Linked DNA regions of Homo sapiens: region 2 is linked to region 1. The links come from fine-mapping of genetic effects on gene expression. A gene starts in region 1. The other region holds a variant in brackets. All regions are shown on one strand. Distances are between the middles of the regions. Region 1 holds the start of A1BG (alpha-1-B glycoprotein). Region 2 holds the start of ZSCAN22 (zinc finger and SCAN domain containing 22).

The links. PIP is the estimated chance that this variant, and not a neighbour inherited with it, causes the effect.
Region 2: its variant is fine-mapped to the expression of A1BG in whole blood (TOPMed, PIP above 0.99). The same link has a PIP of 0.9 or more in blood mononuclear cells.

The regions. Positions count from the first base shown.
Region 1 is chr19:58,348,571-58,357,333 of GRCh38, forward strand. A1BG (alpha-1-B glycoprotein) reads right to left here and starts at 4,922. Exons shown (of 8, transcript NM_130786.4): 1 at 4,834-4,922; 2 at 4,722-4,757; 3 at 4,358-4,627; 4 at 3,713-3,985; 5 at 2,821-3,117; 6 at 1,800-2,081. The coding sequence starts at 4,867. It overlaps ZNF497 (zinc finger protein 497), which reads right to left. Exons shown (of 3, transcript NM_198458.3): 3 at 5,787-8,763. The coding sequence ends at 7,569. A1BG-AS1 (A1BG antisense RNA 1) reads left to right here and starts at 3,400. Exons shown (of 4, transcript NR_015380.2): 1 at 3,400-4,474; 2 at 4,809-4,904; 3 at 5,144-5,287; 4 at 5,799-6,613.
Region 2 is chr19:58,326,360-58,334,471 of GRCh38, forward strand. It overlaps ZSCAN22 (zinc finger and SCAN domain containing 22), which reads left to right and starts at 635. Exons shown (of 3, transcript NM_181846.3): 1 at 635-755. LOC105372480 (a long non-coding RNA gene) reads right to left here and starts at 889. Exons shown (of 3, transcript NR_144444.1): 1 at 464-889. RefSeq lists enhancers at 520-1,262, 606-935. The variant C/T (reference allele first, on the strand shown) is at 3,823.

The sequences.
Region 1 (8,763 bases):
AAAGTTATATTCCCTATCCATTTTGAAATGCTAGCCAAACTACATGAAGTTATTTGCAATTAATTGTAAGCTAATCAGGAATTTTGAAAGCTTGATTGGATTAACAAACTATAATGTTGAAATTTGGTAAAATCATAATGTTAATTTTTACTGTGAAACGTTTTCTTGTAAGATAGATATACACATCCTAGTTTAATTTTGTGTCTTAGTGTGGATTTACAAATTTACTACAGTTATTCTGAGCCCAGGAACCCAATCAGATTTCAGGCCAGTTTGATACTGGCTGTTCTTAATTCTAACAGGAGAGTAGGACATCATACTAAATGTTATGTCAGTGGGACTGTGTTGTCTTTGGAGCTTAGTAAATTAATCATTTTCTTCAGACTTTAAGGAGAGTGATAAATAAAATTTGGAGTCATAGGATATAGATGTACAATTTAAAGATTAAACATTTTTTTTTTTTTTGAGATGGAGTTTTGCTCTTGTTGCCCAGGCTGGAATGCAGTGGCATGACCTGGACTCACTGCAAACTCCACCTCCCGGGTTAAAGCAATTCTCCTGCCTCAGCCTCCCAAGTGGCTGGGATTACAGGCATGTGCCACCACAGCTGGCTAATTTTGTATTTTTAGTAGAGACAGGGTTTCTCCATGTTGGCCAGGCTGCTCTTGAACTCCTGATTTTGTGATCCACCCGCCTTGGCCTCCCAAAGTGCTGTGATTACAGGCGTGAGCCACCTTGCCTGGCCAAGATTAAACATTTTTCATCAATTGTGGATGGTGGCTTATAACACTGCAAGAATAGGCTGGGCATGGTGACTCACAAGTGTAATCCCAGCACTTTGGGAGGCAGAGGCGGGCAGATCACAAGGTCAGGAGGTCAAGACCAGCCCAGCCAACATAGCAAAACCCGGTCTCTACTAAAAATACGAAAATTAGGTGGGCATGGTGGCATGCGCCTCTAATACCAGCTACTCAGGAGGCTGAGGCAGGAGAACTGCCTGAACCCAGAAGGCGAAAGTTGCAGTGAGCTGAGACTGCACCACTGCACTCCGGCCTGCAAGAATAAAAGTAAGTTATCCAAAAAAAAAACAAAAAGGAGAAGAAAAGGGAGGAATGAAGGAGAGAGATGGGGTTGGGGGGCAGAGATGAGAGAGAGAGAAAGAAGAAAAAAGAAGAAAGAAAAGAGAGAAAGAAGGAAGGAAGAAAGAAAGAAGGAAAGAGAAAGAAAGAAAGAGGAAGGAAGGCAGGAAAGAAAAGAAAGAAAGTGAAAGAAAAGAGAAAACGGTGCTCCCAGCAAAGGGTACGACCTCAAGATCTGGAGGTCAGACCTGTGCCCTCACGCTCTGCTGGGCTCTGAGTCCTGGAGACGTCGATGAGGAAATCAGAGGGACAAACAGAGCTGGGGACGGCGGGGATGGGGAGAAGGACACATCAGCCGTGCGCCTGCGGGACCGGGGCCGGGGCGGGGGGTCCAGTATGACGACTGACATGGCCAGTAATAAAACAAGGCAGCCACAGAGCTGCAGGGATCTGAACAAGAAAACCTGGGGCCAGCCTCCCTGCTGCCGACCACCACGCTACACGTGACCTACGGGCTTGCGTCCGTGGGAAATAAGCCGAAATTCCAGGCGTCCCCAGACCCTCGACCACCGATCGCCTGCTCCCCGCCGGGGTAGGCGATGGGGGCTGAACCAAGGCCCAGAGCGCCGCCGTCGGACGCCCAAGGAAAGAGGGGAAAGACAGGAGGCCCCGAGGGGCACTGAACCCGCGCCCGCCCTCGCTGGTGCCCCGCCAGCTCACCGTCCACGTGCAGCTCCAAGCGCTCGCTGGGCGCGGAGCCCCCGAAAGGCGGCTTCAGGTCCACGTAGACGCAGCTGTAGTTGGCGGAGTCAGCCACGGAAATGTTGTGCAGCTCGAAGAGCGCCTCGGTCCCAGCGGGGCTCTGGAAACGGTGCACGCGGCGCCCGCCCCTGTCCTCGCGCACCAGGGCGAAGCGCGCGCCCTCCAGGGGCGCCAGGCACCGCAGCCGCAAGGCCCTGCCGGACTCCGGCTCCGGGGAGAACTCCGGCGCGGGCAGCGTCTCTGCGGAGCAGCACACGGGCTGACCCGGGCGCCCAGCGGCTGGCTCGGCCCTAACGCGTGGTCTGGCCTCGCGCTCTTTGCCTTGGCTGAGTCTTCTGCCCGCAATGACCTGGCCAGCTTCCTCCCTCGCCTCCTCCGGGCCCGCCCCACCTTTGCATCCCAGTCCTTGGATATCTCACACGCACCCTTTCACTGTTTCTTAGTAATTTGTTTGTCTACAGACACAGACGGGAAGCGGGGACGGGGACATGTTTTGTGCATGGCTTGATGCCTGGTGCACGATGCCGCTCAGTAGTGGATTTGCTCCACGAGCGTCTTCTGAGCACCGCCCCAATGCCCGCCCCACGGAGGGGCCCCTGTGGTCCGCTGGGCATGGGGTTCGCTGTCCGGTGCTCAGAGTTTGCTAAATACCATCAGGTCCAAGGCAAGCGAGCGGAGGAGCTGCCTCAGCAGAGGCCCTCAGTGCTCACCTAGACCTGGCAGCTGGGATGGGACCTGCCAGGTGGTGCCCCCTGTGGCCTGGGCCAGACCTGTTCACCCAGTTATTCCCTGTGGGGCCTGAAGGTTGTCACGCTCATCATCATATTTGCAGTTTAGGACCCTGAATCGGCGGGTGGGCGGATAAAGTTGGTATTGGACCCTGGCCCAGAGCACTGCACTTCCCCAGACTCTACACCTGGTACTGCTCCTGCTCCCCAGGGACCCAGCCGCGTCCCTGTCCCTGCTGGCCCCGGCTCACCATCGCTCAGAATCAGCTCGACCGGCGCGCTGTCCCCGGACCAGCCGTTTTGGTTGTCATGCAGCCGGTAGCGGCAGGTGTAGTGACCTCCATCCCCCAGGGCCACCGCGTTCAGGTGAAAGAAGATGCGATCTGGGCTGGTGCTGCTCCTGGGTACCAGCAGCTCTTTCTCCCCGCGCCGTAGCTGGAAGTCCACTCCACTCAGGGGAGCCACGCAGGTGAGGGTCACCTTGTTGCCAGGGTGCAGGACCTGGGAGGACTCTCCATGGTGCATCAGCACAGGCGGTGGTGGTGCAGCTGCAATGCAGGCAGCATTACTAGGCTGCCCCATCCCTGGAGCTGCCCTCTGCCCAGTCCCCAGACCTCTGCCCTCCGGGTGGCAATCCCAGGAACACCCTTCCATTCTTTTTTTTTTTTTTTTTTGAAACGGAGTTTCGCTCTTGTTGCCCAGGCTGGAGTGCAGTGGCGCCACTCAGCTCACTGCAAGCTCTGCCTCCCAGGTTCAAGGGATTCTCCTGCCTCAGCCTCCTGAGTAGCTGGTACTACAGGCACCTGCCACCACACCTGGCTAATTTTTGTATTTTTAGTAGAGACGGGGTTTCGTCATGTTGGGTAGACTGGTCTCGATCTCTTGACCTCATGATCCGCTGGCCTCAGCCTCCCAAAGTGCTGGGATTATAGGCGTGAGCCACCGCACCCGGCCTCACCCTTCCATTCTTTGGGCATCCTCTGCCCAAACTCCTTTGCAACCATCAGACCCAGGCAACCGTGTGGCCAGCTTCCTGGACCTGGTCCTGGGCAAGGACATTCAGCATGGAGGTCAGGATGAATGTGGTCATGCCCCCTGTATCCTCCTCCCCCAGCAGCCCCCAGAGATGGTTCCCACAGTCACCGAGCTCCTCAATGGTCACAGTAGCGCTGGGCTCAGAGAGGGCGCCTTCCCCATCGGTCCGGTAGCTGCAGCTGTAGTTGCCAGGCTGATGGACTGGAAAGGTGGCCTCCACATCCTCCTGGGCCTCAGGCACCTCCAGAAACTCATGGTCGCCCTCCCGCCTCAGCAGAAAAGTCACACCCCGCAGCACACCTCGGCACACTGCTGTTGTTTTCAGGCCGGGGGTGATCCAGGACACTGGCGCCATCGAGAGCCAGGGAGCAGGCAAGGACTCTGTGGGTGGGGTGGAGTTGAAGAGTGCTTCTGCATAACAGGAGACGTGGGAAGCCCAGCAGAACCTGGGCCCCACACTCATAAGACTGTGAAGGAGACAGGGATGGAGGGCATTGCTGGGAAAAGGCAGGCAGGCACCAGTGGAAACAAGGCATACGGCAAGAGAAAAAGAGTGTGTGGGAGCTGTACGGCATGCCGGGCCTGCTGGGGACACAACCATGTATTCCTTACAACACAGACATCATCCCCATTTGACAGATGGGAAGATTGGGGCTTGGGGCTCAGAGACATCGGGTGACTTGGAGGAAGGGAGACCCCCCAGTCAACAACCTACCCACTGCCTCCTGGCCCCCAATTCATGCCCCGGCTCACTTGGCCCTGTCAGCTCCAGGAGCTTGCTCAGCTGGGTCCATCCTGTGGACAAGCCCGAGCGGCAGCGGTAGCGGCCCTGGGTGTCACCCGTCAGCAGGAACTGGTGCTTGATGGCAGGTGAGTCAAGGTGCACAGGCTCCTGGGCCACCCCATTCTTGAACAGCTGGAAGTCTGGAGTCTCCAGGTGGGCCTGGCACGTCAGCGTCACATTGGCCAAGGGTTTCAGCAGTGATTCGGACTCTGCCCACAGGCTGGGCTGCGTCTCATAAACTGCAAGGGGTGGCTGGGATCAGCTCAGTGCCACAGAGACAGGGCTCCCCCCCGGCCTGGGCCCACCATTCCCAGACCTCACCCCTGCACTCACATATGGCTGCTTCTGTCACTGGGCCCCAGGTGACACCTGCGGAGACAGCCCCCGTAAGGCTCCTGTTCCCGCCCCCTCCCGCCCCAGGGACCCAGACCCCAGGAGGCCTCACCCCACAGCAAGAGAAAGACCACGAGCATGGACATGATGGTCGCGCTCACTCCGGTGCAGTGAGTGTCTGGGGTGAGCGTCTGCAGCAATGAGGCCCCAAGGGAGGGCGGTGGGGTGGCTCGGGCACTGACCTCTTCCCGTGTTTGTCCTTCCCGGAAGGCGGGGGCAGGGCCCCCATGGGGTCAGGGCAAAGGGTGAACTTCTGAGGCCTCAGGATGCCCAGCAACAATTATAATCAATAATCATGTATGATTAATAAACTAAATCAAGAGTGATAAAATGATGTTAAAACCACCTCATCCTCATTTCAGTGATGGATCCTAGAACCTGTTCTAGAAGGAGACGCTGAGTTCTCCCCACTCTACCTGGAGCTGCTGAGGTCAAGTGGAGAGTGCCGGGGCTGAAGCCCAGCGAGCCCCTCCCTGTCACACCACACTGCACATGTGACACCAAAGGTGGGGTTCACCTCTTTTCAGACTTTCTGCGGTTGCCCTCACATGGGCTGTCTGGAGGTGCACCCTCACTCTTCCTGAGGACTGTGGTTCCTTCTCCATCACTGGTTCATTCTGCATGGTGTGACCCACCACGGCTCTGGAGTCGGATTTCCACCCAGGTCATTCAGCTGAGACCTGCGCTTCCCAGGCCTACCCGTGACATGTGCTCAGTTACCTGAGCTGCTGGTGGTCACTCATGTGGCTATAGCCTGCTGCCTGGAGGCCAGGCCTCCCGCTTCCCCTGCCTCCCCCTCTCCTCACCACAGCCTGTTGGGATGGAACAGGACAGGGGTGAGACCGTGGTGCTTTCACACTCAGCCTCCATGGACATCCTGTCATTCCCACCCGGGGAGGTCTGGTCCCCACCCTGGGTGTCCCAGCCTAGCTCCGCTACGAGTGTGAGGGCCCAGGGCAACCGCCTAGCCCTCATCTGCCCCCTGCACTGCATCCTCCCCACTCATTCATTCCACAGGCATTTATTGAGCATCTACTGTGTGCCAGATGCAAAGAAGACAGTGGGATAACTGGGCAAGGAGCATTCCAGGCAGAGGGAACAGCCAGTGCAAACATGGGAGATGCGGGTGCAGTGAGAAGGAGCAGAGGAGACCAGGAGTTGAGGCGACTGCAGAGCGATTGCAGAGCTCATAGACGTGATGAAGACCAGCTGGGCACTGCAGCGGCTCTGGCTTCTGCTGTGAGGGACGGGGAGCTGTGGAGACTCCCTCTGTTTGGTCCCATTTCCATATTGCTGAGCACCTGCTGCATGCTCTCTGTCCTGCTCAGAGCCAGTACCTGGATGGAGGCTGTGTGTTCTGGGTGGACTGGGGGAGAATGCATTCTTTGCAGAAGAGACAACCAGGTGCTGAGGCCTGAAGTCATAACCAGACCTGGGGCACTCAGACAAGGACTGGTGGCCAGGCCAGAGGAGCAGAGCTCAGGGTGTGCACAGAACTCAGAAGTCAGACCACTGAACAGTGACAGAACCTTTCAGCCCATTGGCAATGAGGCTGCCCAGGCAGCCAGAGGCCTGGTCAAATCTGAGGTCTGCAGAGATGGAGCTGTCATTCTGTGTTTCCTTTGGCAGTCCCAACACCAGCCTCGTTGCACCCTCCTCTTAGCTTCCCTGGGTTCTCCAGCCCTAAGGGTGGTAGCAGCTTCCTGCAAGTATCCAGCTCTGAGATTCTGCAACATCCACTTTTGCTCTCTGAGCCTTGCAAAACCTGCACAATCAGTCCCTAACTTATATCCCCTCTGTTTGAAATACCTAGTGTGGTTTCTATTTCCTGACTTGACTCTGACTGGTGTGGTACTTGGTATAAAGAAGGTTCCCTGGCCAGGTGCGGTGGCTCACGCCTATAATCCCAACGCTTTGGGAGGCTGAGGCAGGAGGATCACTTGAGCCCAGGAGTTTTGAGACCCGCCTAGGCAACATGGTGAGACACTGTCCTTACAAAAAATTTTAAAATTAGCCAGGTGTAGTGACGCAAGTCTGTCATCCCAGCTGCTTGGGAGGCTGAGGTGGGAGGATCACCTGAGCCTAAGAAGTCGCGGCTGCAATAAACAGTGATTGCACCACTGCACTCCAGCCTGGGTGACAGAGTGAAACCCTGCCCCCTCCCCCAAAAAAGAAAAGTCCCATGAAACAGACCTACACAGGTGAGATTCTGAGATTGATCTGGTTCTGACCTCGGTCAGGAATGCAGTGCTGAGCTTCTTGCCAACAGAATATGAGACACTAGAAAGCCATAGCATGCGGTTTCATCATGTTTAACTGTCACCTGTGGTTGCCTGAGATGAAGTGCTGACTGAAGCGAGCACCTTAGGAGACACAGTGGCCACTGCACTGAGCAGCTGGTAGCAGCAGTGGTGACCATGTGGACTGGGGGGTGGGTTGGCTGCTTTTGACAGTGCCAGAGAACTCAAAGAAATAGCCACACCTGTCGGAGACCCCAGTTCTTGCCCACCTCTGCATGGACGAACCTCTCGCCGAAGTGGAGCCTGCCGCCCTCCCTGGGGTAAGAGCCCATCCTACATGTCCCCAGACAGGCCTGGGTGGCCGGTGGACTATCGTCAAAGGGACTGTGCAGCCAGGGTTCTCCACACCCAAGGCCGCCCCTGCACTCCCAGCAGGAGGGCGCCCGCACCGGCGGCCCGAAAAAGTCTGGGCCAGCAGACAGCGCACTCACGCCCGAGACCCCGCAATGCCGTGTGTCCGCGACCTCCCGCTCAGGGCGTCCTCGGGTCAGGGCGCAGCGCGGCCCCCGTGCCGCTTCTGGTGCTCGTTGAGGTTGCAACGGTGGCTGAAAGGCTTCCCGCACTCGCCGCAAGCGTAGGGCCTCTCGCCCGTGTGCGTGCGCCGGTGGCTTAAGAGCTCCGACTTGCGCACGAAGGCCTTGCTGCAGTGGGCGCAGACGAACGGCCTCTCGCCAGAGTGCAGGCGCTGGTGCTGGCGCAGCTCGGAGCTGCCGCGGAAGGCCTTGCCGCATTCTGCGCAGGCGAAGGGTCGCTCTCCCGTGTGCGAAAGCCGGTGGTGCGCCAGGCCGGAACTGCCGCGGAAGGCCTTGCCGCAGTCGGCGCAGGCGAAGGGCTTGGCGCCCGAGTGCGTGCGCCGGTGGCTCAGTAGGTTGGAGCGCTGGCTGAAGGCCTTGCCGCACTGGGCGCACGCATGAGGCTTCTCGCCCGTGTGCACGCGCCGGTGCTCCGCCAGGTAGGAGCCCATGACGAAAGCCTGGCCGCACTCGGCGCACTCGAAGGGCCGCTCACCAGTGTGCGTGCGCTGGTGCTGCAGGAGCTGCGAGCTCTCGCGGAAAGCCTTTCCGCACTCGGCGCAGGGGAAGGGCTTCTCGCTGCTGTGCGTGCGCCGGTGCTGCCGCAGCCCCGCCACACGCACGAAGGCCTTGCCGCAGTCGGGACAGGCGTGTGGCCGTGCGCCCGCGTGGATCTTCAGGTGCTCGGCCAGGTTGGAGCTCTGGCTGAAGGCCTTGCCACAGTCCCGGCAGGCGTGCGGCCGCGCGCCCGTGTGCACGCGCCGGTGCTCCAGGAAATTGGAGTTCCAGCTGAAGGCCTTGCCGCACTCCGGGCACTCGTAGGGCTTCTCGCCCGTGTGCGTGCGTCGGTGCTGCACCAGCGTGGTGCTTCGGCCGAAGGACTTGCCGCAGTCCGGGCAGCGGAAGGGCTTCAGGCCGCTGTGTGTCTCCTGGTGGTGGATGAGCTGCGAGTGCGCGCGGAAGGCCTTGCCGCACTCCCTGCAAGCGTAGGGCTTCTCGCCGCTGTGGATGCGCTGGTGCTGGCTGAGGTTGGAGCTCCAGGCGAAGGCCTTGCCGCACTCGGGGCACGTGTACGGCTTCTCGCCTGTGTGCACGCGCCGATGCTGCAGCAAGTAAGAGCCCTGGCTGAACGCCTTGCCGCACTCCCCGCACCGGCAGCCCGGCTCCTCT
Region 2 (8,112 bases), 23 kb before region 1:
ATGAAGAGGACGAAGTAAAGTTACAAAGTGATTTACTCCATGTACGCCCTGCATAAATGGAGAGGATATTTCCTACCATAGCTGCAGTTTCCATTTGATTTACTTCTAGGAAGTCCTTAGGTTCCCTGCCTCCAGACCCGATTTTCTTGCCTCACCCTTACCCCTCACCCCTCACACAAACACCCTCAGCCCTCCCAAAGCCACCCTCAGCCTCACACAGCCGCCCTCACCCTCAGCCTCACACAGGCACCCTCAGCTCTCACACAGGCACCCTCAGCCCTCACACAGCCGCCCTCACCCTCAGCCTCACACAGGCACCCTCAGCCTCACACAGGCACCCTCAGCTCTCACACAGGCACCCTCAGCCCTCAGCCCTCACACAGCCGCCCTCACCCTCACCCTCACACAGGCACCCTCAGCCTCACACAGGCACTCTCACCCTCAGCCTTCACATTTCCCTCACCTCCAAGTCCCGCCTTTCGCGCATCGCCTGCTGCTCTCCCACTCAGCGCCACCTCAGTCCCACAAAGGCCGGGCTGGGATCCTGTGGCCTCCGTGCTGACCAACGTCAACTACAATTCCCAGCAGGCACCGCGCCTGGGTACACTTGAGCTTCCGGAGGACGCCGGGAATTGTAGTCCTGGCGGGCGTGGGCCCTTGAGGTGTGCTGGGAGCTGTGGTCCGGGTCGGCGGGCGCGCAAGTTGGCTAGTCTCTGCGGCCACCTCCGGAAGGGTCCGCCGGCTGTGCTGGTGAGGTGGGTTTCGGGGGTGTTCTCCGTCCTGATCCAGGCTGGAGAGGGGCACAGCAGGTCCAGAAGCCGCGAACCTCTGGGGCGGCCAGAGCGAGATGCGGGGTACCGCCCAGCGGGTAGAGAGTGAGAGGCTGACTAGGGGACGTGAGTAGACGGACTGCGAGTGCCGGACACACGCGCAGAGGATGTGACGGACTGACGGACCAGGCGTGGACGGACCGTGTGTGCACGGACTGACGGACCCGGTGTGGACAGACTCACGGACCGAATGTGGTGCGGAATGACACACTGAGTGCCGGACGGACCGACGGAGAATGTGTCGGACTGACGGAGTGTGTGTCGGATGGACTGATTGACCGGGTGTGGGGCGGACGAAGTGTGGAGCGGGCGGACAGATAACAGATAAAATGTAGGACCAGTGGCCTGGGAGGGTGTGGGGCGGACCCGTTTATGTGTCTGATAGGCGGTTCTGTGTCTGACACCTCTTGGGTGTGTGTATCTGACGGGTTGGAGTGTGTGATTCTGATAGGTTGAGTGTAACACTAACCATGGAGTGTGTGACTGACAGAGATGGTTGCCGTTTGAGACTTCCTACGTGGGTTGTGAGATACTGTGAGAGGGTGAGCGTGTGACGGTGGGATTTCAAGTGTGACTGATTTTCTTTGTGTGTCCTTGAGATGGTGACTAAGATTATGAATGACTGTGATCAGAATAATACTGTGTGATGGAAATGCTGCGAGGGCCTGTGTTTATTTTTGAGACGGAGTCTTGCTCTGTTGCCCAGGCTGGAGTGCAGTGGCGCAATCTCGGCTCACTGCAACCTCCATCTCCCGGGTTCAAGCGATTATCCTGCGTCAGCCTCCCGAGTAGCTGGGATTACAGGCACCGGCCACCACACTTGGCTAATTTTTGTATTTTTGGTAGAGACGGGCTTTCACCATGTTGGTTAGGCTGGCCCGGAACTCCTGACCTCAGGTGATCCACCTGCCTAGGCCTCCCAAAGTGCTGGGATTATAGGCATGAGCCACCATGCCTGGCCAGGCCTGTGTTTATTTGACTGATTATAGGTGACATTGAGATATTTCCTGTGTCTGGGTATTTTGAAGGCTGTGGCTGACAGACTGTACCTGAGATAATATGTGTTAATATCTGATTGACTGAGATTTTTATCAGGGAGACTAAAACTTGGGTGATCCACAAACAGTTTACCAAGCATATGAGAGAGGATTTGTGCTTTGCCATGTCTGCAGCTGAAACTGAGTGACTAGTGGTCATTCAGCTGGGCTTATGGATATGTCCCCCAGTGTTTGCTTACGTGTAGCAGGGGGCTATGGTATCCATACATCTACTGCATGTTTACTGTGCACCAGGCCTGTGCTGGACACTTATAATAAATCACCTCACATAATCTCATAGCAACCCTCTGAGGTAGGTACCATTATCAGGCTTGGTATAATCCATGTGTGAGAAATGAAAAGAACCACCCTCCTTGGTTGGTAAAGCAGCTGTGGATGGGGAACCTCAACCTGATAGGAGTTGAGGTTGGCTGAGGAGGCTGAGGAAGTTTCACATACATGTATTTCAGAGACCGTCATGAGGGATTTCTCCAGAACAGGTGTTCCAGGGGTGCAAAAGAGAACTTGGAAGCTGTTGCAGCATCTATTGTCATCCCTGCCACCCTTGCTCCTCCTTCCCCTCATGATTCCCTACATTCTTGGGTAACCATGCTCAGCCTTTACTGGTCATTCCATTTGCTTAATGCCTGCTTATTGTGAACCTGCTATAGGGCAAGTCCTGTGTGCTGTGGCTCCAGGACAGCCCAGCCTCTCTGAGGAAACAGTACAGAACTAGCAAAGAGTTACCCAGGGCACTCTGGGAAGAGGACTTAGACTAGTACCAGGTATCTGGGATGACACCTGAGGAAAGTGGCAGCTAAGATGAGGCCTAGAGAGCCCAGAGGAATCCGTCAGAGACGGATTTCAGAACTCGAGAGCAGCAGGGGCGACAAGGGGCTTAGAAAGGCCACAAGAGACCCAGGAGAACTTTACAGTGCGGCGAAGGGGCTTAAACGCAGCTTGGCCAGAGGCCACCAGAGGTCACCAGCGGTCACCAAAAGGTTTCAGGATTGGGGTCTTGTTTTAGAGTAACGTTCTCTTCTTCCTGTGCCCAAGGCCATTGCTCTTTCTCAGGCCTCCTGCATCTCTGTCCAGGGTGACTTCCTTGAGCAGAGACTCCAGGCACACTGAGCGTCCTGGCTGACATTGAAGGAAAGGAAAAAGAACTCCAAATACTTAAAACTGTGGGAGTCGTGGATGGGAGAGGGAGAGGCTAAGTCTTTGAGTAAGGAGTAGTATGTGGCCAAAGCAAAGTGTCGAGGTCTCCTAGGAGAGGTTACACTTAATTTAGGGTATTCTTCCTGACTATAAGAGAAAACAAATTCACTGTGGGAAGTAGAGAATGTCAAGAAAAGTAATACAGTAGTCACCCCTCATCTTCAGTTTTGGTGAATATAGTACAATAAAATATTTTGAGAGAGAGAGAAAGACCACATTAATATAGCTTTTATTACAGTGTATTGTTATAATTGTTCTATTTTATTAGTCATTGTTGTTAATTTCTTACTATGCCTAACTTATGAACTTTATCAAGGGTATATAATAAGAAAAAAATATAGAATATATAAGGTTCAGTAATATCCATGGTTTCAGGCATCCACTGGAGGGTCTTGGAACACATCCCCTGCAGATAAGGGGGAACTACCATAGTATAAAATACCTTGGTAAGGATGTAGAGAAATTGGAACCCTCATCCACAACTGGTGGGAATGCAAAATGGTATAGCCAATTTGCAAAACAGCCTGGCAGTTTCTTAAAAAGTTAAGCATTGCCTACATGCGGCCAGGCGCAGTGGCTCATGCCTGTAATCCCAGCAATTTGGGAGGCTGAGGTGGGCGGAACATGAGGTCAGGAGATCGAGACCATCGTGGCTAATACGGTGAAACCCCGTCTCTACTAAAAGTACAAAAAAAAATAGCTGGGTGTGGTGGTGGGTGCCTGTAGTCCCAGCTACT[C/T]GGGAGGCTGAGGCAGGAGAATGGCGTGAACCCAGGAGGCAGAGCTTGCAGTGAGCCAAGATTGCGCCACTGCACTCCAGCCTGGGCGACAAAGCAAGACTCCGTCTGGAGAAAAAAAGAATTTTTTCAAAAAGAAAGTATTATCTCCCTCTGAATGTCGGTAGCACCCCCATCTAGAAATGGGGCTAGATTCTGAGAAGTAGAATTAATATTGAGGCAGAGAGCACAGTCATTTTAAAGCTCTTACAACATACTGCCAAATTGTTTGCCAAAGATATTCTAATTGATTGCCCTCACCAATAGTACATGAAAGTAGTTTTTTGCTGTCCCTGACCAGCATTCAGTGCTCACAGTTCTAGAATTTGGAAAGGCTTTGAGTGTGGAGGAAAGATCGCAGATAGCCTGAGCTCAAACACTAGCTTTGTTCCTACTGACCAGATGACTCTAGCAGCTGACTTTCCCCAACTTGGAAAATGGGAGTGGTAATACTGACTCACAGGGTGGAGCTAAGGCTTGAATGGGATAACAGATGCCAAAGGCTAGTGTGGCCTGGTAGCCGGTAGGTTCCCACTGACTGTCTGTTCCCATTTTCTTTTATTCCTGTTGCACACTATACCCATATCCATCATCATAATTATCTTATCATGTGTTGGTCGCTGTCCTTCCGTTGAGGCCATTGAGCCCAGCACCCATGCCTTCCCCGTATTTGCATTCCTAGTACAGTGCTGGGCACAGAGTAGGCACCTAATGGGGCTGTGCTGAACAAAAGTATTATTATTGATGTATGTGCCCAGCAATGCTGTAGACACTGGGGATAAAGCAAAGACCTAAACAAAAACCCCTGCCCTTAATGTGCTGATACTCCAACAGGGACAAGTAAATAATAAACAAGTAACCACATACGTGTATCACACATCAGGTGGTAAAGAGCAAATAAAGCAGTGTAGAAGCACAGAGACTTACTGATAAGGCGTCTTTTGTGTAGAGGCCTGACTTAAATAAGGGAGAGAACACCCAACAATTATCAAATGCACTTTTTTTTTTTTTTTTTTTGAGACAGAATCTCACTCTGTCGGCCAGGCTGGAGTGCAGTGGCACAATCTCTGCTCACTGCAACCTCCACCTCCCGGGTTCAAGCAATTCTCCTGTCTCAGCCTCCCAAGTAGCTGGGATTACAGGCCCCCGCTGCCACGCCTGTCTAGTTTTCATATTTTTAGTAGAGATGGGGTTTCGCCATGCTGGCCAGGCTGGTCTTGAATTCCTGACCTTGTGATCCACCTGCCTCAGCCTCCCAAAGTGCTGGGATTACAGGTGTGAGCCACCGCGTCCAGCTGACGTTATTATTATTATTATTATTATTATTATTATTATTATTATTATTATTTTGAGATGGAGTCTCTGTTGCCAGGCTGGAGTGCAGTGGCGTGATCTCGGCTCACTGCAATCTCCACCTCCCGGGTTCAAGAGATTCTCCTGCCTCAGCCTCCTAAGTAGCTGGGACTACAGGCACACGCCACCACGCCCAGCTAATTTTTTTGTATTTTTAATAGAGACGGGGTTTAATCATGTTGGCCAGGATGGTCTCGATCTCTTGACCTTGTGATCGGCCCAGCTTGGCCTCCCAAAGTGTTGGGATTACAGGCATGAGCCACCGTGCCTGGCCAACATTATTTTTTTAAAAGCTGTATTTTTATTTTATTTTATTTTTTGAGATGGAGTTTCACTCTTGTTGCCCAGGCTGGAGTGCAATGGCAGAATCTCGGCTTACTGCAGCCTCCACCTTCCAGGTTAAAGGGTTTCTTCTGCCTCAGCCTCCCAAGTAGCTGGGATTACAGGCATGCACCACCACGCCCGGCTGATTTTGTATTTTTAGTATAGATGGGGTTTCTCCATATTGGTCAGGCTGGTCTTGAACTCCTGACCTCGTGATCTACTCGCCTCGGTCTCCCAGAGTGCTGGGATTACAGGCGTGAGCCACCGCGCCTGGCCTCCAGAACATTTTTATCATCCCCAAAAGAAATTCCCAAACCTATTAGCAACCACTCTCATTTTTGTCTCTCTTCAGCCTCTGACAAACACTAATATGCTTTTTTTTTTTTTTTTTTTTTTTGAGATGGAGTCTACCTCTGTCGCCAAGGCTGTAGTGCAGTGGTGTACTCTCGGCTCACTGCAACCTCTGCCTCCCAAGTTCAAGAGATTCTCCTGCCTCAGCCTCCTGAGTAGTTGGGATTACAGGTGCCTGCCACCACACCCAGCTAATTTTTGTATTTTTTAGTAGAGACGGGGTTTCACTGTGTTGGCCAGGCTGGTCTTGAACTCCTGACCTCAGGTGATCTACCCACCTCGGCCTCCCAAAGTGCTGGGATCACAGGTGTGAGCCACCGTGCCCTGCCGTGTCTTTCTTCTTTTACTTAGCATCATGTTTTCAAGGTTCATCCATGTTGTAGCATTAATCAGTACTTCATTTCTGTTTATGGTGAATAGTGTTCCATTATAGGTATATACAGCATTTTATCCATTCATCAGGTGGACATTTGGATTGTTTCTCCTTTTTTGCTGTTATGAGTAATGCTGTTATGCACATTTATGTATAAAGTTTTGTGAGGACATATACTCATTTCTCTTGGGTCTATACGTAGGAGTAGAATTGCTAGGTCATGGGGTAACTCTGTTTAAGCTTTTGAGGAACTCCCAGACTGTACTTCCCACAGTGGCTATCCCATCTTACATTCCCAGCAGCAGCATATGAGGATTACAGTTTCTCCATATCCTTGCCTACACATGTTATCTGATTATAGGCATCCCAGCAGGTGTGAAGTGCTATCTCATTGTGGTTTTCATTTGCAGTTCCCTGGTAGCTAGTGATGTTAAGCATCTTTTCATGTATTTATTGCCCATTTGTGTATCTTCCTTGGAGAAATGTCTAGTCACATTCTTTGCTCATTTTAAAATTGTATTATTCATCTTTTTACTATGGAGTTGTTCTAGATACAGGTCCCTTATCAAATATATGATTTGCAAATATTTTCTCCCACTCTGTGGGCTGCTTTTTTACTTTCTTGATGTGGTCCTTCAAATCACAAAAGCTTTTAATTTTGATAAAGTCCAGTTTATTTATTTTTTCTTTTGTTACTTATGCTTTTGGTGTCATAGCTAAGACAGCTTTGCATTATTTTCAAGTATTCATGGAACATTAACCAAAATTAACCATACACTGGGTCACAAACCAAGTTTCAGCAAATTTTAAATGATCGAAATCCATTGTAGCATGTTTTCTGACCACAACAGACTTAATCTAGACATCAGTAATAAAAAGACAACTAGAAAACCCCCAGTTGTTTGGCAATGAAGCAGGAGAGTTTTAAATAAATAACCAATGGGACTGGGCATGGTGACTCATGCTTGTAATCCCAGCACTCTGTGGGGCCGAGGCAGGCAGATCGCTTGAGGTCAGGAGTTCGAGACCAGCCCCGCCAACATGGCAAAACCCCGTCTCCACTAAAAATACAAAAATTAGCCTCACATGGTGGTGCACACCTGTAGTTCCAGCTACTTGGGAGGCTGAGGCAGGAGGATTGCTTGAACCCGGGAGGCGGAGTTGCAGTGAGCCGAGATAGCGTCACTGCCCTCCAGCCTGGGCGACAGAGGGAGACTCCGTCTCAAAAAAATAAAATAAATTTTAAAAAATAATTAATGAGTAAGGTAGAAATTGTAACAGAAATTAGAAAATATTTTTAACTAAATGATAATGAAGATACAACATATCAAACTTGTGATGTATAGCTAAAGCTGTGTTTAGAGAGAAATTTATAGCCTTAAATATGTGCATTAGAAAAGAGGAAAGGCGAAAGTCAATTATGTATCAATCTCAAACACTACAAAATAATTAGCAAGTAAAGTGAGAGAATGACCATGTGGCTACCTGGGGAACAGAGGGAGAAAGACTTGGCTCTGTTGGGGAGGAGCACGCCTTAAACAGGCTGGCTGTAGGTTTGCGTGGGTTTGTAGCTTAGCTCTCTGTTAACCCTTCACTAGCTGAGGGACTTTGGGCAAATATTTTCCTCCTGAGTGTCTGTTTTTCCATCCATAAAATAGGTAGAAAGTCCCACCTCCTGAGTTTGTTGTAAGTTTTTTGTTTGTTTGTTTTTGTTTTGAGACAGAGTCTTGTTCTGTTGCGCAGGCTGGAGTGCAGTGGCGTAGTCTCGGCTCACTGCAAGCTCCGCCTCCCGGGTTCACGCCATTCTCCTGCCTCAGCCTCCTGAGTAGCTGGGACCACAGGTGCCCGCCACC